Homo sapiens: one gene and its partners. The protein of the gene in region 3 purifies or fractionates together with the protein of the main gene of each other region. This does not show direct contact. Each region holds a gene or a part of one and is shown on either strand. Other genes may lie near its edges. The genes, in order: ANKRD22, NOL6, UTP20, UPF3B, VPS41 and NOP58.

What was found.
Region 1: the proteins of UTP20 (region 3) and ANKRD22 purify together in Homo sapiens (co-immunoprecipitation; one large-scale study listed by IntAct). This does not show direct contact.
Region 2: the proteins of UTP20 (region 3) and NOL6 fractionate together in Homo sapiens (co-fractionation; one large-scale study listed by BioGRID). This does not show direct contact.
Region 4: the proteins of UTP20 (region 3) and UPF3B fractionate together in Homo sapiens (co-fractionation; one large-scale study listed by BioGRID). This does not show direct contact.
Region 5: the proteins of UTP20 (region 3) and VPS41 fractionate together in Homo sapiens (co-fractionation; one large-scale study listed by BioGRID). This does not show direct contact.
Region 6: the proteins of UTP20 (region 3) and NOP58 fractionate together in Homo sapiens (co-fractionation; one large-scale study listed by BioGRID). This does not show direct contact.

The regions. Positions count from the first base shown.
Region 1 is NC_000010.11:88,823,521-88,828,747, forward strand, and holds part of ANKRD22 (ankyrin repeat domain-containing protein 22), read right to left. Parts: intron 5,147-5,227; coding exon 5,039-5,146; intron 2,596-5,038; coding exon 2,518-2,595; intron 1-2,517.
Region 2 is NC_000009.12:33,463,034-33,468,260, forward strand, and holds part of NOL6 (nucleolar protein 6), read right to left. Parts: intron 5,113-5,227; coding exon 4,997-5,112; intron 4,903-4,996; exon of another isoform or gene 4,836-4,902; coding exon 4,658-4,835; intron 4,484-4,657; coding exon 4,361-4,483; intron 4,230-4,360; coding exon 4,081-4,229; intron 3,955-4,080; coding exon 3,879-3,954; intron 3,677-3,878; coding exon 3,536-3,676; intron 3,393-3,535; coding exon 3,275-3,392; intron 3,193-3,274; coding exon 3,038-3,192; intron 2,865-3,037; coding exon 2,701-2,864; intron 2,327-2,700; coding exon 2,174-2,326; intron 1,944-2,173; coding exon 1,846-1,943; intron 1,129-1,845; coding exon 1,004-1,128; intron 888-1,003; coding exon 798-887; intron 409-797; coding exon 214-408; intron 102-213; coding exon 1-101. UniProt on the Homo sapiens protein: Part of the small subunit (SSU) processome, first precursor of the small eukaryotic ribosomal subunit.
Region 3 is NC_000012.12:101,282,630-101,287,856, forward strand, and holds part of UTP20 (small subunit processome component 20 homolog), read left to right. Parts: intron 1-2,940; coding exon 2,941-3,007; intron 3,008-3,119; coding exon 3,120-3,252; intron 3,253-3,691; coding exon 3,692-3,880; intron 3,881-5,227. UniProt on the Homo sapiens protein: Part of the small subunit (SSU) processome, first precursor of the small eukaryotic ribosomal subunit.
Region 4 is NC_000023.11:119,845,816-119,851,042, forward strand, and holds part of UPF3B (regulator of nonsense transcripts 3B), read right to left. Parts: intron 1-5,227. UniProt on the Homo sapiens protein: Involved in nonsense-mediated decay (NMD) of mRNAs containing premature stop codons by associating with the nuclear exon junction complex (EJC) and serving as link between the EJC core and NMD machinery.
Region 5 is NC_000007.14:38,754,626-38,759,852, forward strand, and holds part of VPS41 (vacuolar protein sorting-associated protein 41 homolog), read right to left. Parts: intron 3,857-5,227; coding exon 3,729-3,856; intron 2,358-3,728; coding exon 2,213-2,357; intron 312-2,212; coding exon 270-311; intron 128-269; coding exon 77-127; intron 1-76. UniProt on the Homo sapiens protein: Plays a role in vesicle-mediated protein trafficking to lysosomal compartments including the endocytic membrane transport and autophagic pathways. Acts as a component of the HOPS endosomal tethering complex.
Region 6 is NC_000002.12:202,289,175-202,294,401, reverse strand, and holds part of NOP58 (nucleolar protein 58), read right to left. Parts: intron 4,080-5,227; coding exon 3,945-4,079; intron 3,278-3,944; coding exon 3,132-3,277; intron 3,086-3,131; exon of another isoform or gene 2,974-3,085; intron 1,626-2,973; coding exon 1,499-1,625; intron 1,352-1,498; exon of another isoform or gene 1,268-1,351; intron 1-1,267. UniProt on the Homo sapiens protein: Required for the biogenesis of box C/D snoRNAs such as U3, U8 and U14 snoRNAs. Part of the small subunit (SSU) processome, first precursor of the small eukaryotic ribosomal subunit.

The DNA of each region.
Region 1 (5,227 bases), on a different chromosome or scaffold from region 3:
TATTTCTAGTACTTAAAAAATTTTTCGCCGGGCGCGGTGGCTCACGCCTGTAATCCCAGCACTTTGGGAGGCCGAGGCGGGCGGATCACGAGGTCAGAGGATCGAGACCGTCCTGGCTAACACGGTGAAACCCTGTCTCTACTAAAAGATACAAAAAATTAGCCGGGCGCGGTGGCGGGTGCCTGTAGTCCCAGCTACTCCGGAGGCTGAGGCAGGAGAATGGCTCGAACCCGGGAGGCGGAGCTTGCAGTGAGCCGAGATTGCGCCACTGCGCTCCAGCCTGGGCGACAGAGCGAGACTCCGTCTCAAAAAAAAAAAAAAAAAAATTTCTTCTCTGTCTCAATGTATATGTATGTTAGTGTCATATAAGCCATCAATCTCTGCCTTTTTGTTTTCCATTTTCTGTTCTAAAGAATGCAACTTAAAAAAGCTGATGCTGAATTGTGCCAAAGTTTCTTTGTCGCATGCTATATGCCTCGGTGATCATCACCTTGATCATGTCACCATCTTTCCCTTAAAGAGTCTCCACATGGCCCTTTACATAAACATTATCCTCTATGGTTTTGGTGATGATTCCTACTGAAGAAGTCGGGTGCTCTTGCTGCAGGACACCTGCAAGATCAGTGCAGTTCTACAGAGACATTTCCCAAACGTGATTTGTTATAGCTTATATTATGTGTTATAAGCTAGTGCATCTACTCTGTTGGTACTAATTTAAAACACTACAGGTCAAAAAAATTATAGCTAGGGCATTAGTGTCCAAAATTTGGCCTTTGGAAAAGTAGCCAAGCAACCATGGTGCTGGTGAGTGAAGAAATAGTACCTTTGGCTATCAAGACAGGTTTAGCTCTGGATCCCATTCCCTAGAAACACCTCTAAAATTATAGGAGATCATGTTGCAATTATTTATTTTTATTAAGTGGTGGCATGACAAATGGAAGTTCTGGCTCTGAATTTTGTCATGTGAAATAGAGTCTAATTATCCAAAAATACAAAACACTGTCTTACCTAGAAAGTAGATTTTAATACTCAGATAGTTTTTGAAAAAATTTTGGTATTAGAAGTGGTGTCTGTGTGTGTACCTGCATGTGTCTCAAACTCCTGAGTTCAAGGGATCCTCCCATCTCAGCCTTCCAAGTAGCTGGGACTACAGGCTAGTGTCACTGTGCCTAGCTGAAGGAATGCAATATCTCTATCTAGAGAGAGAAATACACATAAATTGCTGAGAAAATATCCTAGAGAAATTTTGGTCACAGGCAGGAATATTAAATCTATTGAATTTAAATGAAAAGACCAAGAAAAACCTTCAACAAACTTTTAACTTCATCTTTAATAATCTCTTACTTAATATATTTCAAAGCTATCTAAAGAAATGGTAATGCACAGTAACTGTCAATACAAATTTATCCAAAAGTTCTATTTGAAATAAAAGGGAATATAAATTTCATAAAGTTATTTTCTTTTGCTCTCTCTCTCTCTCTCTCTCTCTCTCACACACACACACACACACACACACACACACAACTGCCTGCATTTAAACATGATACCAGCATAGGCAAAACCGAAATGATGTAAATAATTGATAGAAACAGGAATGGGGCCATGGTCTCTATCATAAAACAATGGTAATACACACAGATGTGCACACACGTAAAATATGTTAGGCATCACAAATAGAATGTTAGTATTTTGGAATCAAATTTCCACTTGCCTACTTTTTCAATAAGGAACTGGGAATCCAAAATTTTATTCAATCACCATAAGCAAAACACCATAGAAATAAACTTTTGTCTTTCTGTGATCATTGAGAAAGAAAGATGAGTGCAAGAGCACAGAGGTGAAAGTGAAAACAACACCTTATGCTCATAAACAGGAAGAAGTGAGCGGATGCTGCTACTGTTGTTATCACTGCTCTTACCATCAGTGGGATTTTTCTTTGACCTTTGTCTTATTTATCTGTAGTTTGCACACGGGGCCTCTCATCAGTGGGTTGGGATTTTGGCTGCAGTGGCAGCTGTTGCCATTCAATGAGCACTTACTACATTCTGAGCATGTGCTAAGTGCTTTACATGAACAAGCCCAATGAGATAAGTATTATCCATATCCCCATTTTACCGATGAGGACACTGAAAGTAAAATAAGTTTACAACTTGCTCAAACTCATAGAAGTAAAAAGTGGCAAGCCCAGAGTTTACTCATGGGCATTCTCACTCCAGCTTCTTAACTATTATGGCTGGTATTTTGTTATCGGAGCCTTAGTTTTCCTTAACGTCTCAACAACATTAAAGCCAATTATTTTAAAAATGCTTTATAATCAATAGAGGTATTATTCCCATGAGTTCAGCAGAATATAAATAACCTCAAGGTTGCCTGTCAGTGGGAAAAAAAAGGAGAAAATAAAAGAAAACTAAATGTAAAATTGTCTAGGAAAATAAAGCAACTGTACAGATGACAAATACGCTACCTACAAATACCATTTTGAATATTTTTTCAAAATGGCTAAAAGTATAAACTTACACAATCTGTAGCATTAACTTCGACGCCAGCATCAAGTAGCATTCGTACAAGAGCCTCATTCTGCTTTGTCTTTGATACCTATTACAAATGGTAATTATAAGAAAGGCTTATTTACAAATAGTTTCTCCAATTTATGCCTGAGACTATTTAATCAATAGGCTTCATTTTAATCCCAACACTCCTATGCATGCATGCACCCTTCCTAAAATTTCCCCCAGCTTCTCACTCACTCTAATATCAATTAATTAAAGCCAGGTTCTCAGACTGTGGTCCTGAAGTAGCGGCACTGACACCTAAGAACCTTAGAAATGTACTTCTCAGGTCCCACCCCAAACCTACCTAATTCCACTGAGGATGGGGCCTAGTACCTGTCTTTCCCTTCCTGGCTCAAAGCTGTGCAATTACTTCCCATTGCTCTGAGGACAAAAGTAAACTCTTCAGCATGACCTACAAAGCCCCGTATGTTTTGGCTCCACGTATGGCCCTGCCCTGGCCTCTCTCTCACTCTGCGCCTCCTGGCTCACTCTGTTCTACTTACATTGGCCTTTGTTAATCTTTCATTCTCAGAGAATCATTGCACAGGAAGTTCCTTCTGCCTAGAAGCCTCCTCCCTCTCTTCTTTGCCTGGCATATTCACCTTTCATTCATCAGCCCAAGTCCCTCTTTCTCTAAGAAGCTTTCCCTGACCCACCTGACCAGGTGAAATCCCTCTTTTTTAGCTATCCTAACACCAGTCGCCTTTCTGTATCACCCGCTTTATGGTAATTTTACATGTGTTTGTGCCATTTGATTAATGACTCTCCCCACCACCCTCTAACTCTCATGGGGTAAAAAACTATGCCTATTTTGTTCATCATTGTGTCCCTAACAGCTAGCACAGCGTCTGGCACATAGTAGGTCCATAATAAACATACGTTAAAGAATTGAACAAATTAATGAAATGAACTAGGACTCCTCAGAAATTCACTTTTCCTTCCCAGTCTCCTGAGCTTCTGACCACAAGCCTGTTGGAGTCTTCCCCAACTTCCAGTCTCCTGAAGAGGCAAAGCTCTCCCTGCTCAGCTGGGTATAGCCCTGGAGTTCAACCCTGTCATCACCTGGGAAGCTCCATCCAGTTCTCTCTCCTTAGGCTTCCCTCTTGTGTCACCTCCTAAACTGCCTTTCTCTGCCTACTTTTCTCTGAAATAACCCAATGCTTTCCTCTCTCCTCCCCTATCATTTCCTCTCATGTCACTTATTTGTTAATTCATCACAAATTTACAACTTTAGGCCCCATTAATAAATTGCACGTGCATGAAACTAGAGTTGAGCTATTCATTACGATTACTATTTTTGCCCAGTCCTCCAGCCTCTAAACATTGAACCATCTTAGAAAGCAGAGTTGTGTGTCAATAAATTCTGAATGAGCCTTCTAATCACAGTTGTAATTTTTACCTTTAGAATCTCTAAAAATGTTTGTAAATAAATAACAGATTCTCCCTGCCCCCAAAATACATGTATTTAAATGCTATGTGCTAAATACATAATGAATTTTTAAAGAATTCTTCGAGGATATGAGCAGATTATATTTTTATTAGTGAATTAAAGTTCTTTTCTCTCTCCTATAAATCCAAATATAAAAATCAACATTGTCATGTTTAATTATAGTTCCTCAAATTCTGTGGCATTTAAATACCCAATGAAATAATAACATTTTTGACGGGCAGACTTGTTCTGCGGCTGATGTTAACAGGTGTAACCAATATTCACAGTTTATGAGCTACAACAAGGAGGGAGCTTGGTCATTTAATTAAAGTAAATTATGCATCTCTTGAGTCATGTCTGAGAAGTGGAACTGGGCACAAAGGAAACTAGATGGATAAAAGTGAGTAAGTCAGTGCAGATCTGTTACCCTATTGGGAAAAAAAACCAAAAACCATCTCAAGCTTCATCTTCTACTCCTCATATGACTGCATCTCTATACCAACTACATCTTTCTTTATTCAAGAAAATTGCTGTCTGCCAAGATTCATCCAAGCATGAAGAAATTCATCAAGGTGAAAATGGGCTTAAATTCTCAACAAGTATCTTCTGTGTGTGTCAGCTTCTGGATGCAAACTTTTAGGATCTGTTTTTCAACACACCACCAGAGGAGTACTTAAAAATCAGTAAGTCAGAAAGATAAATCCAAAAACACAAACTCCTCTTTTAAAAAAAGGAGAAAAAAATATTAGAAGGGGTGTTTTTTAATATTCAGAATTTTTTTGCTCCCTTCAGAAAAGTCTTAGTTAAGGTTAAATTATTTTTCTAAATCAACATTGCATGGATTATGTTACCATTGATTAACTATTTTTGCTAGCTTTCTTCTTGCTGTACTTCAATTATAGCATTGGATGTATGTTGAACATGTCAATTACAGAATACAAACCAAAGGCTTTTTTTGTTTTTATTTCTTTTCAACATCTCACTGGCCTGGCAAGAGTCAATGAGTCACACCATCGATCTCCACATTTGCCCTTTGCTCTACAAGTGTTGTACTCACCATGAGGAAATACCCAATAAGCAGAACAGGCATTAAGAGGATAATTAGTAGATAATCAATGAAGGTAAATTTTTTCTTCACAGCATAATGCAAGCAGGTTCTCTCTTTCTAAAAATTAAGAAAAGGATTCTTTACTAATAAAGCATTTCAATTCAAAATTTATTCAGATGGCCATCTCAAAAAGTTTAG
Region 2 (5,227 bases), on a different chromosome or scaffold from region 3:
TTGAAGGGCTGCGGCTGGAAGCTGGTGGGCTTCCAGAGGACACCAATCACCTCTCCACCATGCTGGTCATAGAAGAAAAGGGCCAGATCCCCAAAGGCCTCCTAGAAAGGGACAGAACAGAGAAGATTATAGGCAGGCATTTAAGAGCTCCTCCACAGCCTCAGCTTCACCTGGAAGTCCCCTCCCCAGGTCATTCAGCTGTTTAGGACCAACCCTGAGCTGCGTCAGATAGAGCTGAGGAGGATCATAGCCCAGCACGGGCATCAGGGATGAGGGCCCCGGCTGGCTGAGCAGGCCCCGGCAGAAGGAGGCAGCTGGCGAGTCCACAGCCTGGCGGTGCCGCGGGATATGGCGAGGAGACAGGCGAATCAGCACGTCGTAAATGTCCAAGGGCGGCCGGAACACTGTCTAAGGAAGGGGAGAAGGAGGGGTCAGCAGGACCCCCTTGACTGAGGAACTGGACCACAAACCTCTCCACACGCCCACCTTGGTTTCCTCCTTCCATCTGACCACCCTCTATGGGCCCACCTGCCCATTTGAAGACTGAAGCACCAAGACCCACAGAGCAAACAGCTGTTGCATAGCCCGGCAGAAGGAGCACAGGCTAGAAACAGGAGACCCAGATGGAACCCAGGTTCCCCAGGCTCTGCCACCCCAGGCACCACAGCAGCTTCAACACCTCCTCTGTTCAGTCTCACCAAACAAGGGGACCGGGTCTCCTGTGAGATCCCTGAACGCTGAACTTCCAAAGACAGAATCCCCAGAGGCCCTGGAGTCACTGCTGGTCAGAAGCTTACCCTGATGTCCCCAGGTCCCCGGGGATCCATGAGCTGCTTCTCTAACATGGGCAGGGCTTCAGCTGCCAGGACCACAAGCTGCTGCAGGATCTGCGGGGTACAGACACATCAGACTGGAACTGAAGTGGGTCTCTCCCAGGTCAGGCTGGGCCTGCTTTTTCCTTGGGAAGAAAACCACACATTAGGGGGCAGGTATGGGGTTGAACCTGGGCTGAGGGTCCATCCTGTGTCCACACAGAGTTTTTGCGGTCTTGGGGGGTAACAATGACCATGACGGGGAGCTGTGCCCGAGCTGCCAGGAAGCCACTGCGGATCTCCACCTGCTCCTCCACTAGAGACAAGAATGGGTCCTGGGTCAGCCTGCTCCTCCCTGTAAGACACCCTCTACTCCCCCAGGTCCTCCTACGGTGCCCCCAACGGCTGCTCATCACAGGTATTTTTCAACACTCCCCCCCACCAAGTGGCAAAGGTGACGAAAGGGACATCGCATTTGCCTCAACTGGGTGGGGCATTAATCGCCCAACCTCAGCCCAGAGGCAAAATTTTCCACTGCTTGGCACCCCCAGTCTGGTTTCCGGGCCTGCACAAGCTGAGTCTTGCCCCTGGCCCCCTCCCACCATGGGCTTCCACACACCTGGGGAATTAGGAACCTGACACCCTGCTCTCTGCAGAGACCGAGTGCCTCACGTTACAACCAGAAATCACCACTCCCACCCCCACCAAGAGGTCTGAGTATCTGTGCTACACTTCCTAGCTCCGTGCCCTAATACTTCTTACGTGGTATTCAGGATCCCCCTTCTATTCTCCTCTTCCTTCCACAGCCCCCCGCCAGGTAGCTTGCTTACCACCCTATCATTCTGTCTCTGACAATTAAGAGCAAACCATGTCATAATGGTCAGGCTGTTCACCTGGACCTCTTCTTCATGTCAGGCTTAGACATCTGGGGCTGGGGAGGCACAGAGAAAACCTAACACTGCCAGGGAAACCCTTGCCTGCAATCCATAAAGAGCTGTTCTTCCAGCAGTCTGACCCCTGTTCTACCACTTACCAGTGAGCTCATTATTGAGGTTGACAAAGAGGGGGTTGTTCTTCCAATCAAACGTTGATACCAAGAAAAGGAATCGAAGGAAGCCAACCTGGGGGGAACTAAAGGGCTGGAGTAAGCAAAGAATCCAGGGCCCAGCCACATATCCCCAGGCTTCTCTCAGGCTATGGAGCTCAGACCCCCTGGTGTGGATTGGCAGGGCAGGGCATCTTAGAACCCCTTCTGCCACTTGCTCAACCACCCATTCCCATGTAGACTTAGGGTGCAGCACGAAGGATGATGGCTGGCCGCAAGGAAACTTCTCAGCTGGGGAAAAAGTGGAGGGAATCACCTCGGAGGGGTGAAGGGCTCAGGGTGCAGGAAAAGGGCAGCGGCCACCAGATCCAGGCTCTCATCAGCGAAACCCTCACCAAGAAGCTGGGCACGCACCCACCGCTTGGCCAGCCGTGCCACACCAGAGAAGGCTGGGTGCTGCTGCTGCAGTCTGCAGAGAGAAGGGGAGTGTCAGCGAGACTCAGGGCCCCACTGCCACTGTTCATCCAGCCCCTACCCAAGGCCAGCCTCAGTGATAATAGGTTACATATGTAATCTCATATTCTCTTAAGAAATGCACCAAGAAGTTGACCCTAGTGTTATTTCCATTTTACAGATGACAAATATAGGGACCAAGGAGGAAAATCTGACCATAGGGTCACAGTCAGTAAGTGGCAGAGCCAGGATTCCAGAACCTGCCTGACTCCAGAACTCATACCCCTAACTATGATACCATCTGGCCCCTGGAGAGACAGGTGGCTAGGTGAGGAGAATGGGGGCAGGAGGGGGCCTACAGACAGGAAGAAGCTGTGTCAGTGGCCTTACCCGTGCAGGGCACTGGTGAGCAGTGGCAACTGCCTTGTGTCTCTCTCAAGGCGGAGGGAGGCAGCTGTGTCCCTCAGCGAGATCATCCCCTCTGGGCTCTGCACCTCCTTCAGGATCTGGGGCTCCCGCTGATAGGCCACGCGAATCCGAAACACAAATCCATCCTGTTGGAAGAAGGTATGGAAAGAGAAGGATGTGTCAGCCCAGAACCCCGGGAGTACTCTGTGGCCTACAGCCCTATTACCCAGCGTGGTACCCACAGGGGTGTCTTCTTCCACGCCCTGACATCCCTGGTGCCCCCCTTCCCTGGGGACATATCTGCCTGCACCAGCCTAACCTTAAGGACATCCGTGTGCGTGGCAGTGGCACGGCACTGCAGACCATGCTGTTGTGTCAACAGCTCTGCCAGGCGCAGCTGGAAGGCAGCTCGGACCCGCTGCACGGCCTCAGCGTCCTGTGGCCACTGGCCACTGCCCTCCAGGTGACAAACCACTGAGGAAGAAGAGTCAGAGGTCTCATACTGTGGCCTGGAGCTGGAACTATCCCTCCCACTCCCTCCCAAGGGCCCTCTTACCGGTCATGGGCTCCACGTAGGCCGGACAGGGCTTATCGAGCCGGGGCAGCAGTGAGGACCGCTCCCGCAGAGTCTCATAGAAGGAGAAGGCTGGACGGACTGGAGTTGGTGGGAACACCTGTGGAAGAAGAGGGGCTGAGGAATGGGCCTAGGACTGGGAGGGAGTGCCCAGAGTCAGGAGTTGGAAGTGGGGAATACTGGGTGACTGGAGCAGAGGTGGGGCCACTAAGCAGAAAGGTCACCTGCACCGTTGCACCTCACCTCTGTGTAGCGCAGCACTGGGTGAGCTCCCTGAACAGCAGACACGGTCAGTGGGAGACCCTCTAGCCCCCACAGTAGGCGACTGAGGTCGTCGTAGCAACGTACCGCCGCTACCAGGGCCTCCTCACCTGTGCTGGAGGTCTGAGAGGGAGAAGACGGTCAGGAGGCTGGACCCTACAGAAGGCCAGCTTCACCTGGATTCTGCCCCAGCTCAGGCTGCAGCAGAGCCAGCACCGCCGCCTGCTGGACATGCCAGGAAGTGCAAGCTGGCCAAGGCTGAGAGGACTCTCTCCCCGCAGATTGATTACTCTACAATCACTAGCCTTGACCCCAAGACCCTTACCTCTTTCAGGCCTTGGATAAGTGCATCCAGGGGGCCCCCCACATAGTGGACACAGGTTTCTGGGATGTCAGCATGGCTGAAAAAGAGGCAGAGACACAGTGAGAAAATTTGGGGCTATGTTCTCGCTCAACTGCCTGGGCCAGACCCCTGAAAAGGCTCCCCAGCCCACACTGCCTTCTGGAATCCAGATGCCAACACTCACAGTGCCAAGAGGTGGGTGACCACCTGGTGGGGAATAAGGCGCTTCTGGGACATAGAGGCTGCCTCCCAGACCACAGCTTCCCGAATGGCTCCGTCCTGGAAACGCCGAAGCTCCGAGCGGGATCCCCAGAACTGGCGGAATTTAGCAGCCTGAGGAGGCAAGGGTGGTAGTAGAGCTGGGGAAGGAAGGGCTCTGTGGACCCTCCCCAACAAGCTTCAGTCCAGGTGCCATGAGGACGAGCCACCCCATTCCTTCCAGTGTACATGCTGGGGTCCCCCACCTCAGGCTGGTCTGCCTCTGGACCCAGCTCAAGGACGCTGGTCAGTCCCTCAGGCCGGAGAAGGAGTCCCAGGGTCAGGGTCCCAGAGTCTTTGTGCTTTGGTGGATCTTGGCTGATGTCCCACTGCAGGATTTCAAAAGGCTGAGCTCAGTCCTCCAATCCTCCAGCCTGGCCTAGAAACCTACTTTCTAGCTAGCTAGAAACGCCTAGCTGGAGGAATGGTGTGTCCTTTGTGTCTCTTGGGACCCTGGATCCAGCCCAACTCAGACCCAAACTCCCCAACCTACACCACCTCACCTCTGGGACTGGGGGTCGAGAGTGAGCCAGCAGGTTCAGCCGAGCCCCCAGGCCCTGCTCCAGGAGGGTGGTCAGGGGGCCCAAAGCAGCTGAGACATAGTCCCCACCATTGTCCTGCAGCTCTGGCCAGAGCTTCAGCCGGTGGCACGCTGCCTGCAGGCGACTCAGTGGACGGAGACTGGAGGGGTACAAAGGGCCAAAGAGGGGTAATCAGGTTGCTGGCCCCTAGTACCACCTCCTCCCTGAATGATCTGAGCACCTGTCTGAAGACCTTTGCCCCACCACTGTAGCCCCGAAGAGACAGGACCCGCCAACATACCCTGTCACCCCTAAACTCACTGCAGGACATGGTCAAAAGCCCGGATCATGGGTTTGGGAGTCATCAACAGCAGGTGGAACCCGTCGTCAGCTCTGCTGTCCAGCAACATCATAGACAGCCGTGCCTCATGCTGTACCTGGAGCCACAGAAGGGACCATCCCTGTGCCCTTCATTGATCCAAGGGCTTAGACCAGGAGACATGCCCTAAACTTAACTCTTTGAAGAGGAGTTTCTGGGGTTCTGGTACTTGC
Region 3 (5,227 bases):
GAATGACATGATCAGGTTTAAATTTTCAATCTCTCTGGCTTTAGTGTGGAGAAAAGAGCAGGACTGCAGTTCTTCATCATGTCATGATTCCTCTGCTAGCCTTTTAAGGTCCTGTGTAACATGCCTTTAACTTGGAGATCCAATCTCAGTTGTCCAGTTGTGAGGATTTGACTGTTATCTAAGTAAGAAATGATTATGGTAGCAGCAATCAAGATAGAGAGAAGAGAAAGATTCCAGAGATGTTGAGGAAGTAGAATGAATGGATAGGACTTGTGACCTACTGGGTTTGCAGCAAGGAAGATAATGAGGTTAAGGCTGAATGGTTGAGGATGTTACTCATCAAGATATATTTATAGGTAAAGGAGCACAAGGTTGTAAAGATAAGATAATTAGTTCCATTTGGGGCTTGAATTTGAAATACCTTTGGCCATCCAAATGATAGTGTCCAAAAGATGTTTGTATATATGGATCTGGAGTATAGGTGACTTCAGAGGTGAAATTACAGATTTGGCATTTAGAATATGATTAATAATTTAAGCCACAGGAGAGGTTGAAGGTATCAAGAGGCAGTGTTAAGAAGGCAGAGAAGACAGCCTGAAATTAGAATCCTGGACTGGATGGTCCAGAATGGCCTCTGTCACGTGTCTGGCAGTTGGCTGTGGCTTGTTGATCTTGGTTCTTTTCATGGCCTCTTATTCCCCAATAAGCTAGACTAGGCTTCTTTTCATGGTGGCAGAATCTTTTCAATAGAGTGAAGGCAGAAGCTGTCAAGACCTCATAAAGTTTTGCTTTGGTCATGAGAGTCACTTTCATCGCATGTTATTAGTCAAAGCAAGTCAGGAGGCCAGGCCAGATTCAAAGGGTGAGGAAACAGACTCCGTCTCTTGGTGAAAGGAGCTCCAGAGTTACCTTGCAAAAGGACGTGACATGGTCTCTCACACATAGCTGACATACGCCAGGTCTGTGCTAGGCTAGAAATGCGTTCTGCATTTAAGTTTTAAACTGTGTTGCATATTTTCTTTCTGCCTTAAAGGACATGAAAATGCCTTAAAGGACATGAAAACAACAACAAAAAAATTTTAATATTTTTACTTTTGAAAAATAGAGATAGGATCTCGTGTTGTTGCCTAGGCTAGTCTCAAACTCCTGGGCTCAAATGCTCTTCCTGCCTCAGCCTCCCACTGTTGGGATTACAGGCATGAGCCATTGTCCCCAGCCTAAAACAAAATTTAATGGGATTCTCTTTCTTTTCTGCCTTTTTTTTTAATTTTTAGTTTTTAATATTTGTGGTTACATAGTATCTATTCTGCCTAACTATTGATTTTAAAGATTTCCAAAGAACAGTTTAAGGATTTTTTTTTTTGATATTGTAGATTTGGCATGCTGTTTGCATGTGTGCTTATGTGTTTATTCTCTCTTTTTTCTCTCTCTCTATAAACACATATTTGTATTTATTTTTATTTTTATTTCAACTTTGATTTTAGATACAGGGGGTACCTGTGCAGGTTTGTTACATGGGAATATTGTGTGATGCTGAGGTTTGGAGTATGGATCCTGTCACCCAGGTAGTGAGCATAGTACCCCACAGGTAGTTTTTTTTAACCCATCCCCACTTCCTCCACCCTCTAGTAATCCACAGTGTTCATTGTTCTTATATTTATGTCTATGTGTACTCAATATTTAGCTCCCACTTATAAGTCAGAACATGCAGTTTTTGGTTTTCTGTTCCTATGTTAATTTGCTTAGTATTATGGACTCCAGCTGTATCCATGTTGCTGCAAAGGACACGATTTCATTCTTTTTTAAGGCATATAATATTCCATGGTGTATATGTACTATATTTTCTTTATCCAATCTACTGTTGATGGACACCTGGGACAATTCAATGTCTTTGCTATTGTGGATAGTGTAGAGATAAACATACGAAGGCATGTATCTTTTTGGTAGAATGATTGTTTTGGGGGGGTATGCATTTATTTATACATCTATATACACACATACGTACATGTATACATACATGTCATACATGTATGATAATTTATTGGCTTTACCTTTCAAAGTACAAAGTAATTGATACCATGTTAACAAGTTAAGTAACATAGTGGTAAACTTACGAAAAGCCCATTATCTCACTCCTCCCACCCCTAATTCCCAAGGAAGCCAACACTGACAGTTCAGTATAGTTGTATTCTTCCATACTGTCCTCTCATGTTCGTATGTACAAACATTTATAGAGGGTTTTTTATTTTTGTTTTTTAAGGAAAATTGAATCCTGCCATACCCTCTCACTGCATAACTTTTATCATTTTGGGGGCATATCTTCAGTGTAGTTCTAGTTCAATAGAGATATAGCTCTTTTTAGTAGCCACATAATATACCTTAGTATATATAGACCATGGGCTATTCCAACCATTTTCCTATTGTCGGATATTTTAGCCTGTTTAATGTTTCCCCACACTGTAGTTAAGCTGAATAAACATCTTTTACTTAAAGGCTTGCAAACTTTATAAGAACTACCTGGGTCAAAGAGCGTAACTATTTTGAATTTTAACAGGAATGCCATATTACTTCTTTATAAGGTTGTAGTAATTCATATTTCTAAAAGCAGAATGAAGGAACTGTAAAGAACCAACACCTTATTCTTTGCCTAAAATTATAAAAAAACACAGAAAATAATTTTCCCTTAGTGGACAATATATATAGGCCCCAGAAAATTATTTGCTGAAACCAAATCAACAAAACAGCATTTTATAAGTGGCCTATTGATAACTTCTGATTGCTTTTTAGTGTGTTACTTAATGGCCTGTTTTAAAAAACTAAAAGGAGTTCTTAAACTCTTCAGTATCATTGTCTTAAGATATTAATATATCATTATTCTATTTACCTTGATCATTGCTTTCTTAGAGTTATTTGATTAATGGACTGCTTTAATCTTGACAGGAGGTTGAAACCTACTTTTTTGAGGGTCTGCTGAAATGGAGAGAATTAAACCTCACAGAACACTTCGGTATTTTCTATTTCGTTTCTATTTTATTCACCCATAGTTTGCACTTTATATGTTCCATACAGCTGAATAGTGGTGTGATAGAAAAGAACATATTTTTTTTTCCCCCACTCAGGAAAATTTTACAAAGAAGTTATTGACAAATGCCAATCATTCAATCAGTTGGTGTATCACCAAAACGAGATAGTTCAGAGTTTGAAGACTCACCTGCAAGTTAAGAACAGTTTTGCCTATCAACCCCTTTTGGAGTAAGTAGCATCTTGAGAGAAAGCTCACAACTATATTTGCCTGAATTTTAAGAAAGATTGTGTTTCAAAGCTACATATACCGCAGATCAGGTGCTCATAATTTAGAAACAAGGAGGATTTTCCTTTTCTGTTAGGAATAAGTGCATTACCATAAAGTGGAATCTTGGGGTATAATTTCGCATTTGTTATATACTAAGATAATCTCATTTTTCTTTGACACTATAGGAACAGTTGGCTACAACTTATGATGGAATGTAACTTCTTGCCTGATTTCTTTGCTGAGATCTTAAGATTTAAAGAATTTTATAATTTTTCAGACTTGATTTAGAAGTATTTTTATTTAATTAATCCTATGATCATAGGCCACCTACTATCGTTAAGTAGATTTGTAGCCTTTTAAAAAAATCCACATGATCAGTTGCTTCTTTTTTTAATCCAGTTTGGTTGTACAGTTGGCACGAGATCTGCAGATGGATTTCTACCCACACTTTCCAGAGTTTTTTTTGACTATCACCTCGATCCTGGAGACTCAGGACACAGAGTTGTTAGAATGGGCTTTCACCTCGTTATCATATCTTTATAAGTACCTGTGGAGACTGATGGTGAAGGACATGTCCAGTATATACAGGTAACCCCTTTCTCTCTCTAGTATGTTTTTTAATTGCCTGCTTCTTTTTCCCTGGCTTCTTTATGACTCCAAACCACTTTGCCAGCTCAGTGCCTAATTGTTTCCATGTACAAAGTTGATTCTCCAGCCAAAGTGGTCCACAATCTAGTCTGCCAGTCTGAGTTGCCATGACCATCTCTCCTCTCCAGCTACTGGAAGTATACCCACCCAAGAAGGCCTGACTCGGTCCCTACAGCCTCCACAAACAGGCACCTTTGCCAGAAGTATTAATAAAATTTTGTACTCTCTATCCTCTTGGCATTTTTTAACCACCTATGTCACACAACTTTTACCAGAATTGTTTGGTTATAATGTATTGCTGTCCTCTCTACACCTGGTATAAGGGAGGTTTAAGACAGGTTAAGAGCCCTGTTTTAAACACTGACATTTCCCCAGCCACTAATACTTACTAAGGTGAAAGAGACACTCAGTATTTGTGAGTAAATGTGGACAAGGAAAGAGAATGAATTTTGTAGTAACCTTTTGTTTAAAGTAAGCATAAATTGTCTTATTATCTGTTTAAGTCTGGGGTTTGGTGGGATTTTCCACTTGGTCTTCCGGTTGTTTTCATGTTCTATAATTGCCACAGGAGTGTTTAATATCAGTCATCAGCCCCTTACCCCACAGTAAATGGTGTATGCATGGTATGGGACAATAGACTTTGTTTTATGCCACCCGTTTCACTCAGCCCACCGTTCTCTTTTAGGAACTTTGAATGAAGAAAGAGAAAGAAATCTTTTTCCAGCCTTTACTAGTTCCCTATGAAGCTTTTGGTCAAATATGTTAGAAACCAATATTATTTCATTAAACAACCAACAAGGTCTTTGGGGAATAATTGATTTAGTTTTATGACTTCAGCTGTCATAAAAGCTGCCACTTTTATGTCTCCTAAGTCAGGCTCTTCAGTTCTAAATTTATTTGCTTTCGGTGTGACAACTTCAGTAGCCTGGCTATTTTCACTTGTATTACTGAAACTGAACTCAACACTTTCCTGTTAAATCAACTCCTCTTATCTGTACATTCATTCAAGTGTTCAGTAAATAGGTATTGAGTGTCTGCCGTATGCCAGGCCCTGTTTGGTTGCCCATTTTCTGTCATTAATACTAACGTTCTTCCTGTCTCTGAGTTTTGGAATATCAGAGGCATCACTAACCCAGTTGTCTTCAGAGGTGTCCACATCCTCTTGATTCTGTCATTCATGCATTTGCTCAGTCAATATTTATTGGACACTGTCTGTATGTCAGGCACTTGAGATACAGTCACAGATAAAACAGATAAAAAATGCTCTTCTCACAAAGTTTACATTTT
Region 4 (5,227 bases), on a different chromosome or scaffold from region 3:
GACTATTTCAGGCATGTGAATTATATCTCAATAAAGCTGTTATTTTTTAAAAGTGTAACTATTTGAGGTGATGTGTTATGTGAGGTGATGAATGTGTTAACTTGATTGTATATATTTCATAATGTATATATGTATACATTATGTATACATTTCATAATGTATATATGTATACAATATGTATACATTTCATAATGTATACATTTCATAATGTATACATATATAAAATTATCACGTTGGGCTGGGCACCGTGGCTTATGCCTATAATCCCAGCATTTTGGGAGGCCGAGATGAGAGGATCACCTGAGGTCAGAAGTTTGAGACCTGCCTGGCCAACATGGTGAAACACTGTCTCTACTAAAAATACAAAAATTAGCTGGGCGTGGTGGCACGTGCCTGCAATCCCAGCTACTCTGGAGGCTGAGGCATGAGAATCACTTGAACCCAGGAGGCAGAGATTGCAGTGAGCCGAGATCATGCCACTGCACTCCAGCCTGGGCGACAGAGTAAGACTCCGTCTCAAAAAAATAAATACATAAAAATAAAAATAAATAAAAATACAAAAATTAGCCAGGCGTGATAGTGCACGCCTGTAATCCCAGCTACTTGGGAGACTGAGGCAGGAGAATCACTTGAACCTGGGAGGCGGAGGTTGCAGTAAGCTGAGATTGTGCCACTGCACTCGAGCCTGGTAAAAAAAAAAAAAAAAAAAGAAAAAGAAAAAAGAAAAAACAATTATTACATAGTAAAATTTAAATATATATTATTTTATTTGTCAATTATAGCTCAATAAAGCTGGGGAAAAATCTGTTAACACTTAAAAAAAAATACACCAGGACACCAAAAGCACAGGCAACAAAAGTAAAAATACAGAGGGTAGATCTCATGTTAAGTGTTCTTACCACAATAAAACAAAAATATAAAGTATATCTCTTATTTAAAAAAAGTAAAAAATAGATAAATTGGACTACGTCAAAATTAGAAACTTCTATGCATCAAAAGACACAATCAACAGAGTGAAAAGGCAACCCATGGAATGGGAGAAATATTTGCAAATTATATTATCTGATAAGGGGTAATATCGAGAATATATAAAGAACTCCTATAACTCAACAACAAAAAACCAAATAACCCAATTTAAAAAATGGTCAAAAGACTTGAATAGACATTTCTTCAAAGATAATATACAAATGGCTAACAAGCATATGGAAATATGTTCCACATTACTAGTCATTAGGGAAATGCAAATCAAAACCACAATGAGGTATCATCTCACGCCTATTAGGAGGACTACTATCAAAAAGCAGAAAATAACAAGTGTTGGCAAAGATGTGGAGAAACTGGAACACTCATGTATTGGTGGGAATGTAAAATGATGCAGCTGCATGGAAAACAGTATGGCAGTTCCATAAAACATTAAAAATAGAATTATTGGGCCAGCCTGACTAACATGGTAAAACCCCATCTCTACTAAAAATACAAAAATTAGCTGGGTGTGGTGGTGGGCACCTGTAATCCCAGCTACTCAGGAGGCTGAGGCAGGAGAATTGCTTGAACCCAGGAGGTGGAGGTTGCAATGAGGGAAGATCGCGCCATTGTACTTACTCCAGCCTGGGCAATGAGGGCGAAATTCCATCTCAAAAAAACAAAACAAAACAAAAAAGAACTACCGGCGGGGCACAGTGGCTCACACCTGTAACCTCAGCACTTTGAGAGGCCGAGGTGGGCGCATCACTTGAGGTCAGGAGTTTGAGACCAGCCTGGCCAACATGGTGAAACTCCGTCTCTACCACAAACATAAAAAATTAGCAGGGTGTGGTGGCAGGTGTCTGTAATCCCAGATACTTGGGAGGCTGAGGCAGGAGAATTGCTTGCACCTGGGAGGTGGAGGTTGCAGTGAGCCAAGATCATGCCACTGCACTCCAGCCTGTGTGACAGAGACTCTGTCTCAAAATAAATAAATAATAAAATAAAAATAGAATTACCAAATGACTCCAGAAATTCCATTTCTCGGTATATATCCAAAAGCAGTGAGAACAAGGACTCGAATATGTGCACATCTGTGTTCATAACAATATTGTTCACAATAGCCAAGAGTGGAAGCAACTCGAATACCCCTTGACAGATGAATGGATACACAAAATGTGGTATATACATATACTGGAATATTAGTCTTAAAAATGAGGCTGGGGGCAGTGGCTCATGCCTGTAATTCCTAGCATTTTGGGAGGCTGAGGCAGGCATGTCACTTCAGGTCAGGAGTTTGAAACTAGCCTGGCCAACACAGTGAAACCCCATCTTTACCAAAAGTACAAAAAAATTAGCCAGCTGTGGTGGTGGGTACCTGTAATCCCAGCTACTTGGGAGGCTGAGGCTGGAGAATTGCTTGAACCCAGGAAGCGGAGGTTGCAGTGAGCTGAGATCGCGCCACTGCATTCCAGCCTGGGCAACAAAGTGAGACTCCATCTCAAAAAAAAAAAAAAAAAAAAAAAAGATGAAAATTCTGACACATGCTACGACATGGATACACCTTGAAGATATTATGCTAAATGAAATAAGCCAGACAGACACTGTATGTTTCCACCTATATGTGGTACCTACAGTAGTGAAACTCATACAGACACAAGGTATAATGGTGGTTGCCAGGGGCTGGAGGAAGGGAAATAAGGAGTTGTTTAATGGGTAAAGAGTTTCAGTTTTTCAAGATGAAAAAGTTCCCAAGATTGTTGCACAACAGTGTGAATATACCTTAATGCTACTGAACTGTACACTTAAAATGGTTAAGATGGTAAATTTTATGTTACGTGTATTTTTACAATTTTTAAAAATGCAAAAGGAATGAGGTAATGATATATGTTATATGTTACAACATGGATGGACCTTGAAAACATTGTGCTAGGTAAAAGAAGCCAGTCAGAAAAGACCACATATTGTATGATTACATTTATATGAAATGGAGGGAAATCATAGATACATAAAGTAGATTAGTGGTTGCCAGGGGCTGGAGGGAGAGAATGGGAGGTAACTACTAATAGATATGGGTTTCTTTTTGGAGGGATGAAAACATTCTGGAATTAGTACTGATGGTTGTACTACCTTGTGAATATACCAGAAACCACTGAATTGTACGCTTTAAGAGGATGAATTTTATTATAGGTGAGTTATATTTCAATACAAAAACCCCAAGTGACTAATGGGAAAAAAATTCACAAGCACCCTGTCACAGAATGTCAAAAACAAGGTATCCTATCCTTAAATCATTGGCATGTAGACATAAGCAGAAAAATAAAAATAAACAGAATTGACCAGAAGGCACTGCAAAGCAGTCATGGAGGAAAAATTATGTTGGGAATCCCAGTGAGTAGAGAATCAGATTAGCTTCAAAACTGTGATATATTAGGCCAGGCATGGTGGCTCACGCCTGTAATCCCAGCACTTTGGGAGGCTGAGGCGGGTGGATTGCTTGAGGCCAGGAGTTTGAGACCAGCCTGGCCAACATGGTGAAACCCCATCTCCTAAAATTACAAAAATTAGCTGGGCGTGGCGGCACACACCTGTAATCCCAGCTAAGTCGGCAGGCTGAGGAACGAGAATTGCTTGAACCCAGGAGGCGGAGGTTGTAATGAGCCAAGATTGTGCCACTGTACTCCAGCCTGGGCGACAGAGTTAAGACTCTGTCTCAAAAAAAAAAAGAGAGAGAGAGAGAAGAAAAAGAAAAAAAACAAAAATAAAAACCAAAAAACAAAACTGTGATATATTTGAGAAGGAATAGATAAACCAGACTGAAACAGAGGGAAATTGTGGAAGACAGGCTGAAGAAACAGAAGTGAGGCCAGAATATGGAGGACCCTGACTACCAGGCTAAGGAGTTTGGACTTTTTCCCCCAACTGTTAATTTAAATCATTATTTTCAAAAAGATTAATTTCATGGCAATATAATAGACTGAATTATACAAGAATGAAAAAAATGGAAAATCCTGTAAGTTTAGAGACAGTGGTTGTCTAGGCATTAAGTGATGAGGACATAAAGTGTGACTGTTTAAGGCTAGGTGAACAAGATATTAAAAAAAAACAATAAAATCCAGCCTGGGCAACATAAGCAGACCTTGTCTCTAAGATTTAAAAACAAAACAAAACAAACAAACAAACAAAAAACACAATGAGGAAAGGATAGTCTCTTTAATAAGTGGTGTTGAGCTGGGTATGGTGGCTCGCACCTGTAATCCCAGCACTTTGGGAGGCTGAGGTGGGGGGGGGGAAATCACTTGAGCCCAGGAGTTCAAGACCAGCCTGGGCAACGTAGTGAGACCCCATCTCTATAAAAAATTTAAAGAAAATTAGCCAGGCATGGTGACATACATCTGTAGTCCCAGCTACTCAGGAGGCTGAGGTGGGAGGATTGCTTGAGTCCAGGAATTCCAGGCTGCAGTGAGCTCTGATTGCGCCACAGCACTCCAGCCTGGGTGGAGACCCTATCTCAAAAGATAAACAATAAATTGACAAGATTCATAACTTACATGTAAGAGATTTTTAAAAAAGGAAAAAATTAAACACAACTCAGATTTCCAGGCTAAGTAACTAGAATCTAGTTAAATATCTACTGGAATAAAATAGTTGGAGTGGAAAAATAGCTGGCTTGGGGAGATTAATAAAAGTTGGACAAACAGTGGCAATCCTTCAATTTTTACTGGCATAGTCCCTGACAAAAATTTAATTTTTACCAACTTTGAAGTAATATTGAAAAAAACAAAACAAAACAAGAAGACACACTATTTACCTATAATTGCAAACCAAAAAGAAAAGTGGCAAATGGCAGCTTAGATATTCTCTGGCTAAATGTAGGTAGCAGATAATAGAGTGTTAAAGTAGAAATGTGTCTTCCCTATAGACTGGACCTTTCTGGATATAAAGTAAGAGATGTATCAAGTTTCTTTTTTTCGATTTTGAGACAGAGTCTCGCTCTGTCGCCAGGCTGGAGTGCAGTGGCGTGATCTCAGCTCACTGCAACCTCTGCCTCCCAGGTTCAAGCGATTCTTCTGCCTCAGCCTCCCAAGTAGCTGGGATTACAGGCGTGGACCGCCACGCCTGGCTAATTTTTTTAGCATTTTTAGTAGAGATGGGGTTTCACCACGTTGGCCAGGCTGGTCTCGATCTCCTGACCTCGTGATCCACCTGCCTCGGCATCCCAAAGTGCTGGGATAACAGGCGTGAGCCACCACACCAGGCCGAG
Region 5 (5,227 bases), on a different chromosome or scaffold from region 3:
TCCTCGCACCAATACTGAAAGGTGATTCACCCACTGGTCAATCAAAAGGGCAAAAGGAGGAGACTGCCATGCTCACCACATGCTGTAGCTCTGGTCTGTCTTCCAATTCTTCCACTACCTTTTTAATCTAGATAAAAAAGAAAAGTTTCAAGGTGGAGTCATGAGGACAGAAAGACAGCTACAAAATTATCTGATAAACTCTCTTCTTCACAGCTATAGGAGTCCCAGACGTTCATCTGGTAACACATATAAAAACAAATGACACTCACTGAAATTTTATCTTCATTGTCCAAAAGCATGTCAACAGCTTTCTGAAACATATAAGAAAAGCCACAGTCAATGAAATCCGTTATTTAAGAAGAGAAGACTAAACACAATGCAGTGTACCTACCACAGTTCACAGGTGGAAGGCTTATTTTGTATACTTAAGGAGGCCCTTGGCTTTACAATGGCTCTTATGGAAAATGACATTTGTGAAGAACTGCATTTTCAAATGCATCTCAATCTGAAGCCTATGTGTTTTGCACACTACTAAAATGGTGCTTTGCTATAACTTCCCAAATACAAAACATCTTGACTGCCCATATCCTAGCCCCCCGCCCTCCGATGTCTCGGATACCTTCACACCTTCTCATGAGACTCTCAGTAGTTATGGAGAGCATCTCTTTACCAGTATATCAAGAAAATGAGCTTTTCTTCCAGCTACTTCAACCTCGACCTAGTCTCCCTATGAGACTCCACAGACAGAAGGAGCTGGTTTTATGAGGAGAAGGGAATAAGAGTCAGAAAGAGAATGAGATACCTGAAGTTTCATAATGACATAAAGCTTTTGGACTTTCAGAATTTACTTTAGCCACTTTTATCATTCAGGAAACACAAACTAGACAGTTTATGTCAAGAGGAAGAGGGAAAGCAGCACACCAGACTGAGCCTCACACGGAACACCTGGGGGCCCTGTTCTAGACTCTGCTACGACCTAGCTGTCTGCTCCAAATGTTACTTTTGTTCTCTGAAATACGAGGGTGTTGGAGTAGATTATCCCTAAGGTCTCTTCTAACCAGAAGACTCTGATTCCTTACATCTGGATCACATTCTAGAATAGCAATTAGTTTCAGCTCATTCATCTTTTTTCCACAGGAACATATGCAAAACGAGCTCTGGAGAACAATGGAAGGGGGTGCATGAGGGGAGACTAGATATGAGGAAAATGTAATTAATTTTTACATAAGCATCTCATCCTCTGCCAGACAAGCAGAGCCTCTCTACCTGAACTTCCTTGGAGCTACGTAATTCTTCGTAAATCTGTAGTCCCTAAAGACTTGACTCAGTATTTTAAAAAGGGCTAAAGCATCTTTGAGAAAAAGACGTAGCTCTAGCTCCTATCTAAATTAAGTTTAAGTTGGTGGAGATTAATATAGCACACAATATCTCTAAATACAGTACAATATAATTGAAAAATGCATTAATCCTTTTGGAGCCTTTAGGGTTCTACTTTTAGGTTTATCTAAAATTTCAATTTTTTGAATAAGAACACTGTTTTATAAACCTCATTATTTCTGTCATGAGCACTTGTAATTAGATTTCTTTTACACACACACACACACACACACACACACACACACACAGCTTGCATCACTTTGCAAGCACCAATGTGAGCTGTGGCTGGGTCCACTCATTAGGGGGCGTAAATTTATTATTAGGTTATTCAAATTTGTCACACAATAAAATAACATTCCACATGTCCTGGACATGAGCATCACCTCAAACCAGGGGAAACCCCACATGCTGGATACGTGAACACCAAGAAATAAAATAGTAATAAGTCGGTCAAGATGGAAGTTCACTTAATTTTAAAATTCTGGAAAACAGGTTAGGAGGGATAAATGAGTCAAAGTATATACGTGGTTTGTTTCTATAAATTATATGAATTGTTTTAGCAAGAAATTACTTTATATGCGCACACACACAACTTTAAAAGTTCTCTATCAACTTTGAATTGCTTTCACAGAATAACTACATTATGAAAAGGATTCCTGAATGCCAAACAACTAGAATAACAACATCTAGCGAGGGTCAGAGTGTTCTAAAGATTGTCGGCATAAAGCCAAGTTATGTGATTCATTCACCAATCCAGCATTTGGATAGATATCTAAGTATTAAATATTTGGAATAGTAAAAATAATTGACAGTACTAAAATAAAAAGCACATTACCTCTGAATCAAAATCCATTAATAAAACAATTTTATCCTTGATAGAACTGAAAAGATTATGCTTGTGGATCAACTGAAAAACGTCTTTATGTCTTAATGTTAAGTATATTTCCAGAGCATTGCCATAGTTCTTGTCATAGGTGTACCTGGTAATACAAATTTTTTACATTAATATTCATCAACAGTTCTAATTAAAACACACACAGAGAGATCATGGTTCACAATATTAAAAATGGAAACACTCCTTTAGAGAGAAAAGTTAACTTTATTTCAAAAAATATTCCTATTTTTGAATAGGATTTAACTATACACGACCAATAAGTATTTCTTTCTCAGAACTTTGCCTCTCATGTTGCCAAAATTTAAGAAAATTCACAATATTCAAGTAATAAAAATGGTCTTTATTGGGGGTCTCAGTCTCAAAAGTTTTACAAACATCCATACAGCAAAGAAACTAGGATCCAGGATGAAGTTCTCATTTTAGTAACAGAAACATCCGTTCCAATTCTTACAAGCAGTATTCAGCTGACAAATGGCTAATATTCCAAAAGCTGATTTTAAGGGGGCTGTGTCTAACTGAAATGTGTTTTTCCATTGAAACAATGTTTTTCACATTAAGTCCCTAAGTCAGCTCTTGAGAGCTCACTGAACTGAAGCTGTACTGTTGGTCCATTACGAACGTGCTGCAGACTCTAAGGGGTATCTAACAGGACAACGTTTCCAAGAGAAAATGATTAGCATTTCAACTTAGAATGCCATAAACACAACCTCCTCTTGTGGAAAATCCAACACGTCCAGAGTTCTAGGTCATTTTGGTATACCTTTTTTGGTTTTGGGCAAAAGAAGAAAAAACAAGGGAGAGGAGTGGCCTGAGGTGATGGGGGCACTGAGGAGAGGTGGATGCAGGGATGGTCGTCTTGGCTAGACCTGCAGTATACTTCTTGTTTCCCTAGATCGAAGTACTTGAGAGCATATCTTATCTATCTCTGTATCATAAGCGTCTCGCACAAAGCCTGCATCACTGAATGTGCCCAAGAAATATGAAAAATATTAACCAAGCTGCCATTTTCTGAGCCCTGACTCAGGGTCAGGGAGTCCTCTATTATGACATCTCTTTTAAAGTTTAAAATTTTCCCATAAGGAATTGACATTTGAGAGATTAAATTAACTGACTTGAAGACCCTAGAAGAGCAGAATCCAGAGCCTTGCTCATTGGGAAACTGTTATGCTTGAGTGATCTAAAACTTGGCACCCTTTTGTTTCCTAACCACTGCCTCTCCCAAGCGCTGTGCGTTAGGGGTTCTCTTCTCTGGGAAACAGATTACATTGCAATTGTACAGTTTCACACATGTCCTTATCGCCTACTCATTTGAGGTTTATGAGAGGTTTTTACTAAGAAGGAATGTAGGAAAATGGTATAAAATACATCTTCTCCACTTGGAGTTTGCCAAATCTAAAGTATGAAAAACTTTTCAACACAGACTGATATGGAAAAAGAAACACTTAAGTATACTCACAATTCTGCCAGGGTTTTAAGTAAAGTCTTGTTCTGACTATCTTTCTTCAAATGATCCCGAACTGCTTGAACTATGACTGAATTATTATACAGATCTCCAGGCCATTCTCGGATCAATGTGGCAAAACCCTAACCAAAGGTGAAAAACAGAAAAAGAACACTCATTCAACAGAATAATAGTTGTGATATTGTGAAATATACATTTGGTCCTCCTTCTGTTTCCTGGCATATAACTCTCAAAATCCTTAGAATCTCTAAAATGATGTGTCTTCTTGTATGCTAATGAGCTGACTGGTGGCTAGCAGCCCCTAGGTAACTTAAGGATGGGGTTGGGCACAGGATAGACTGAGACAGGATTAAAGGGTTGGAACTTTTCAGCCCTACCCCCACCCCTGCCCCACAACCTCCAAGGAGGGGAGAGGGGCTGAAGGTTACACCGATCACCAATGGCCCAGTGTTTAAATCAATCATGTCTAAGTAATGAAGCTTTCATTAAAACCCAAAAGGAGTGGCTTTGGAGGGCTCCCCAAGAGCTGAACACCTGGAGGTTCCTGGAGGGTGGTGCACCCAAAGAGGACCTGGAAGCTCCATGCCTCTTCCCACATACCTTGCCCTCTGCATCTAATCCATTTGGCTGTTCATCTGTATCCTTTGCAATATTCTTTATAATAAACCAGTAAATGTAAGTAAAGTGTTCCCCTGAGTTCTATGAGCTGCTCTAGCAAATGAGTCAAATCTAAGGAGGTGGTAGTGGGAATTCCAGTTTATAGTTGACCAGTCGGAAGTACAGGTGACAGCCTATAACTTGTGATTGGTATGTCTGAAGTGGGGGCAGTCTTGTGGGCCTGAGCCCTCAGCCTGCAGGAACTGATGCTATCTTCATGTAGACAGTGTCAGAATGAACTGAATTAGAGGACATCCAGCTGGTGTCCACTGCAGAACTAATTGCTTTCTTGGTGTGTAGCGGAAAAACCCAGATATTTGGTCACAGAAGTGTTGTGTTGTGAGAGTATAGCATGAGAAACTGAGTTTGGTTTCTCCTAAATTCTCAAAACAAACCAAACAATTTAAACCATCCCTAAAAGTATTCACTTTTAGTCACATAACAGACCAAACAATTATATGATTAAAAGTTTGTTCAATAAATATTTCATCAATTTTCAGACTATGGGTCTGGGTGTGGTGAAGAGTTGCAGGGAATATTATTGTACAATAAATCTCCATTTAGCATTCCTGGGAGGCAGGTCGTGCCATCTACTTCTGTCCTTAGTTTTACGAAATGTACAACTAAGAAAGCTATCTTGTTCCTTCTATAAAGTGCATGGACAAGAGTTTAGGTTGGACTTGCCCCATCCCCATTCTGGACTAACTGTAACATTTGGATGACAGCTTTAACAGCTTACAGATATTACCCAAGTCAGCTACTTTCCCCACCACCAAGAGTCCTCTAATGCACTTAGGCCTGGGCTGCTGGGTGCAACTGGTTATGCAGTTGTGCAC
Region 6 (5,227 bases), on a different chromosome or scaffold from region 3:
CTTAAGCACTAGACATAGTTTTAAAAGTGTAACAAATACATAGTTCTTTTTTTTTTTTTTTTTTTGAGATGGAGTTTCACTCTTGTCACCCAGGCAAGCAATGTCACCACTGCTGTGTGCAATGTCACAATCTTGGCTCACTGCAACCTCCACCTCCCGGGTTCAAGCAATTCTCCTGCCTCAGCATCCCGAGTAGCTGGGATTACAGGCTCATGCCACCAAGGTTGGGTAATTTTTGTGTTGTTAATAGAGATGGGGTTTTATTTACCATGTTGGCCAGGCTGGTCTCGAACTCCTGACCTCAGGTGACCCACCCACCTCAGCTTCTCAAAGTGCTGGGATTACAGGCGTGAGCCACCACGCCTGGCCAACAAATACATACTTCTATTAACCCCTGCCATTGCTTACTGCTACAAGTTTAGCTATACCTATGAAAATGGGTAGAGACAATGAAATCATCTGATCTTATAGCTGAGGGCATTTGAATGAAACCTTTGATTAATGATGCAGCTAAAGGAGTTACGCCAGGCCGGGCGCAGTGGCTCACGCCTGTAATCCCAACACTTTGGGAGGCTGAGGTGCGCAGATCACCTGAGGTCAGGAGTTTGAGACCAGCCTGGCCAACATGGCAAAAACCCTGTCTCAACTAAAAATATAAAAATTAGCCAGGCATGGTGGCAGCACATGCCTGTAATCCCAGCAACTTGGGAGCCTGAGGCAGGAGAATTGCTTGAACCTGGGAGGCAGAGGTTGCAGTGAGCCACTGCACTCCAGCCAGTGCAACAGAGTGAAACTCTGTCTCAAACAAAAAAAAAGGAGTTATGCCATTTTAAACACTCTGATGCAGATGATATAATCTTTTTTGATGAATTATAACAATGTCTCCAAGTAACATAAAAATGATGAATCAGTACTTCATTGTATTTGTAGGTATTCAATTACATAGCATTTTAATTATAGCATATCATCCTTATAATACTGCCATACACATATACAAAGTTTTATTATAAATCAGTTGTTGAAAATATTTTTGAAAGTCAAATATATTACATCCTCACACTCAATAGTGAAACTAAGGTAATCAATCAAGGGCACAAATCCTCTACAGTGATTTCTTTTTTTTTTCTTTCTCTACAGTGATTTCTTAAAACTGTATTCAAATCTAGGTCTAGTGAGTTTTTATTATGAAAATGTTAACTGTTTTATCCTCCTGCATTCATCCGATTGTTCTAATTAACCCTAACAAACTTCTAACAATGGACCACAAGTGTCTCAGAAGAGGTAGTGACTAAAGATGCCTTCATTATCCAAAAGGAAATCAGGCAAACAAATAGAAATCATCATTGAACACTTGGCCCTTAGTGATCTCCCACATATCATCTACTTTTGTGTTATCAGCTAAAATTTCTTTAACAGCTGTAGTTTAAAGATGTAAACAAAATCCTAACCAGAAAATACTTCAAACACTCATATTTACAAATTACATTAAAACCATCACCTGCATGAGCAATAAGCCGTGCTCCAACTAATTCCCCAACCATGACTGTAACATTGGGTGCAATGGCCATCATTCGATTTTGTAGATATTCATAGAGCTGGGTTCGATATTCAGAGATTTCAATCACCTAGTATAAGGAATAAAGTTAAGTCACAAATATCATATGAGTAAAAACAGTAAAAATTCCTGTCTAAAACACTGGAGCCCTCAATTATGAAAGAGCAGCTACACAACCCTGGGTACTGGGTACATCACCTATGCCTAACATCAGTTTTCTTTTTTTTTTTTCCCAGGCTGGAGCGCAGTGGCGCAATCTCAGCTCACAGCAATCTCCGCCTCCCGGGCTCAAGTGATTCTCCTGCCTCAGCCTCTGGAGTAGCTGGGACTACAGGGGCCCGCCACCACGCCCAGCTAATTTTTTGTATTTTTAGTAGAGACAGGGTTTCACCATGTTGGCCAGTATGGTCTCTATCTCTTGACCTCATGATCCTAACATCAGTTTTCTATAAGATGGCTGTAATGAGGACTTCGTTATATAATGTATGTAAACTACTTGGTCCACTGCCTGAAAATCTTAGTCAGCGTAACTGTATTTTTAAAAGATTCTAAGCAGCCCAGGCACAGTGACTCACACCTGTAATTCCAGCACTTTGGGAGGTCGAGGCAGGTGGATCATGAGGTCAGGAGTTCAAGACCATCCTGGCCAACATGGTGAAACCCCGTCTCTATGAAAAATACAAAAATTAGCTGGGCATGGTGGCACGTGCTTGTAATCCCAGCTACTCGGGAGGCTGAGGCAGGAGAACCGCTTGAACTGGGACCTGGGAGGCAGAGGTAGCAGTGAGCCTGAGAACGTGCCACTGCACTCCAGCCTGGGCTACAGGGTGAGACTCTGTCTCAAAAAAAAAAAAAAAAAAAAAAAAAAAAAAAAAAAAGATTCTGAGCAATAAACATTTGTATCATGCTCTTTTTAATTCCTATATGGCTACCTTCAAATCTGAAAGAAAAAAAAATCACAAGATATAGACATAAGACTCAGAATTAAAAGGCTCAATCCATAATTGTCTGCCATCCTTTTTTTTTTTTTTTTTTTTTTTGAGATGGAGTTTTGCTCTTGTTGCCCAGGCTGGATGCAATGGTGCCATCTCGGCTCACTGCAACCTCCCCCTCCCTGGTTCAAGCGATTCTCCTGTCTCAGCCTCCCGAGTAGCTGGGATTACAGGTGTACGCCACCACGCGCAGCTAATTTTTGCATTTTTAGTAGAGATGGGGGTTTCATCATATTGGTCAGGCTGGTCTCGAACTCCTGACCTCAGGTCAATCCCTGACTCGGCCTTCCAAAGTGCGGGGATTACAGGCGTGAGCCAACGCGCCTGGCCTTCTCTGCCATCTTAATTGATTTTTGGTTAATTCATTATTCAGACGATGATTGTAAATTACTTCCTTTTAATATGTATTTCCCCCTTTTAAGTATACAAATCATGATGGCATCAGATGAGGTAGTGACTGAACACCCTCATATTTATGTTATCAGGTGAACAACAATAAGTGTAAAAATCATCATTGCCATCAGAAAAATTAGTACTATAGAGCTGGTAACACCACAACTAGATTCTCCAGGAGTAAAATTTACCTGGGTGCAAAGATGCAGAATATTGCAAATATCTTCTTCTGAAACCTCTGTTCCCATTGATATCTCTGCAGCTGCTTTCACTTCTGCTTCAACTTCTTCTGGCAGCAACTCAGAAAGCTTGGCAGAGGCATAGTTCTTCCTATCGCCTATGGAATGTTTGCAGAGGATGAGGGAGAATCACTCTTCAACAAATTATATAAAATCCAGCAAATAGTCAAAAGAAAAAGTAGAAAGCCAATGAAAAGGATGCCTAAACAAAACAAAAAAAATGAAGAAGTTTGACCTAGTATAACAGTTTTCCTCATTTAAGGGTTTAAGTTTAGACATTAAATGTCTCCCCACCACCTTCTTCCAAAAAATAATCAGAGTAAAAAGAGGACAAAATATGCCACAACACTTATTACAGAATATAAGTGGCAAAAATTTAAAAAAGACAGGACTAATAATAATGTCACAGACAATTTTATACTGAAGCTGGGGCCAGTAATTCGTAAGGCAAGTAAACCATCAATCAATCAAGTTCCTCTGTACGTTAACGACAATCAACAATCAAGTTCCTCTGTATATTAACAGTACAGACGGCAATACTGCTATTTAGCATTAGGTACTAATATCATGTTATAGGCCATCAAAATCTAAGTTAAAATTCATTTTGTTTCTTAAATTTAAGACACTAAACTGCTACACTTCCCAAATACACAGAAATTGCAAAAACCCTGGGAATCTTGCTTAACAAAATGCTATACGTCATGTTTTAGGATGCAATCAAATTCATTTACTTTCAATGCCTTAAAGGATGAACAAATTACTCACCAACTTTCTGTAAACACTTGCAGTATGTTAAATTATCTGAAATAATTTTTCCTAATTCAGGGAAATGCCAGCCATACCATTCTCTACATCGCATAATGTAGTTGTTTAGTTCTTTATCCAAGTCATCTAACAAGGCTGTAGTAGATTAAAAACAAACAAACAAAACTTAAAGGGATTTATTGTGGTAAAACATACACAACATAAAATTTAACACTTCAGGCTGGGCACGGTGGCTCATGTCTGTAATCCCAGCAGACAGGCATATCACGAAGTCAGAAGTTCAAGACCAGCCTGGCCAACATGGTGAAACCCCATCTCTATTAAAAATACAAAAATTAGCCAGGCATGGTGGTGCACACCTGTAGTCCCAGCTACTCTGGAGGGCTGAGGCAGAAGAATCACTTGAACACAGGAGGTGGAGGTTGTAGTGAGCCGAGATCGTGCTACTGCATTCCAGCCTGGGTGACAGAGCAAGATTCCGTCGCAAAAAATTTAAAAAAAAAAGAATAAAAAATAACACTTCAACCATTTTCAAGTGTACTATTCAGTAGCATTAAGTATTCTTATGATGTTATGCAACCATTACCAGGATCTATTGCCAGAGCAATTTTATCATCAGAAACTGAAAAATTCTGTACCCATTAAACAGTAACTCATTCCCACCTTCCCCCCAACCTCTAGTTATCTTTATACTTCTGTCTCTGAGTTCACCTATTTTAGGTACTTCATATAAGCAGAATCATGCAGTATTTTGTGACTATTTCACTTAGCATATTTTCAAGGTTTATCATGTTGAAATATGTATCAGAATTTCATTTCTTTTTAAGGCTGACTAACATTCCACTGTGTGAAGTGGCTGGGTGTACGTTACCCAAAATGCTTGGGACCAGAAGTATTTCAGAGTATTTGCAAACACGTATGAGGCTGAGGATGGAACTCGAAGTCTAAATAGGAAATGCATCTACATTTCACATATACCTTATATACAAAACCTTGAAGGTAATTTTACACAATATTTTAAATAATTTTGTGCATAAAACAAAGTTTTGACGTGTGGTCAGGTGTGGAGTTTTCCACTTGTGGATTTGTGTGGTACCACAAAAAGTTTTAGATTTCAGAGCATTTTGAATTTCAGATTAGGGACATTCAAGCTGCATCCACAATGCAGTTTATCCATTCATCTGTTAAAAGGTATCTGGGTTGTTTCCACTGTTTGGTTTTGTAAATAACACTGTTATGAACATAGGTGTACAAGCAACTCAGTTCTGTTTTTAATTCTTTTG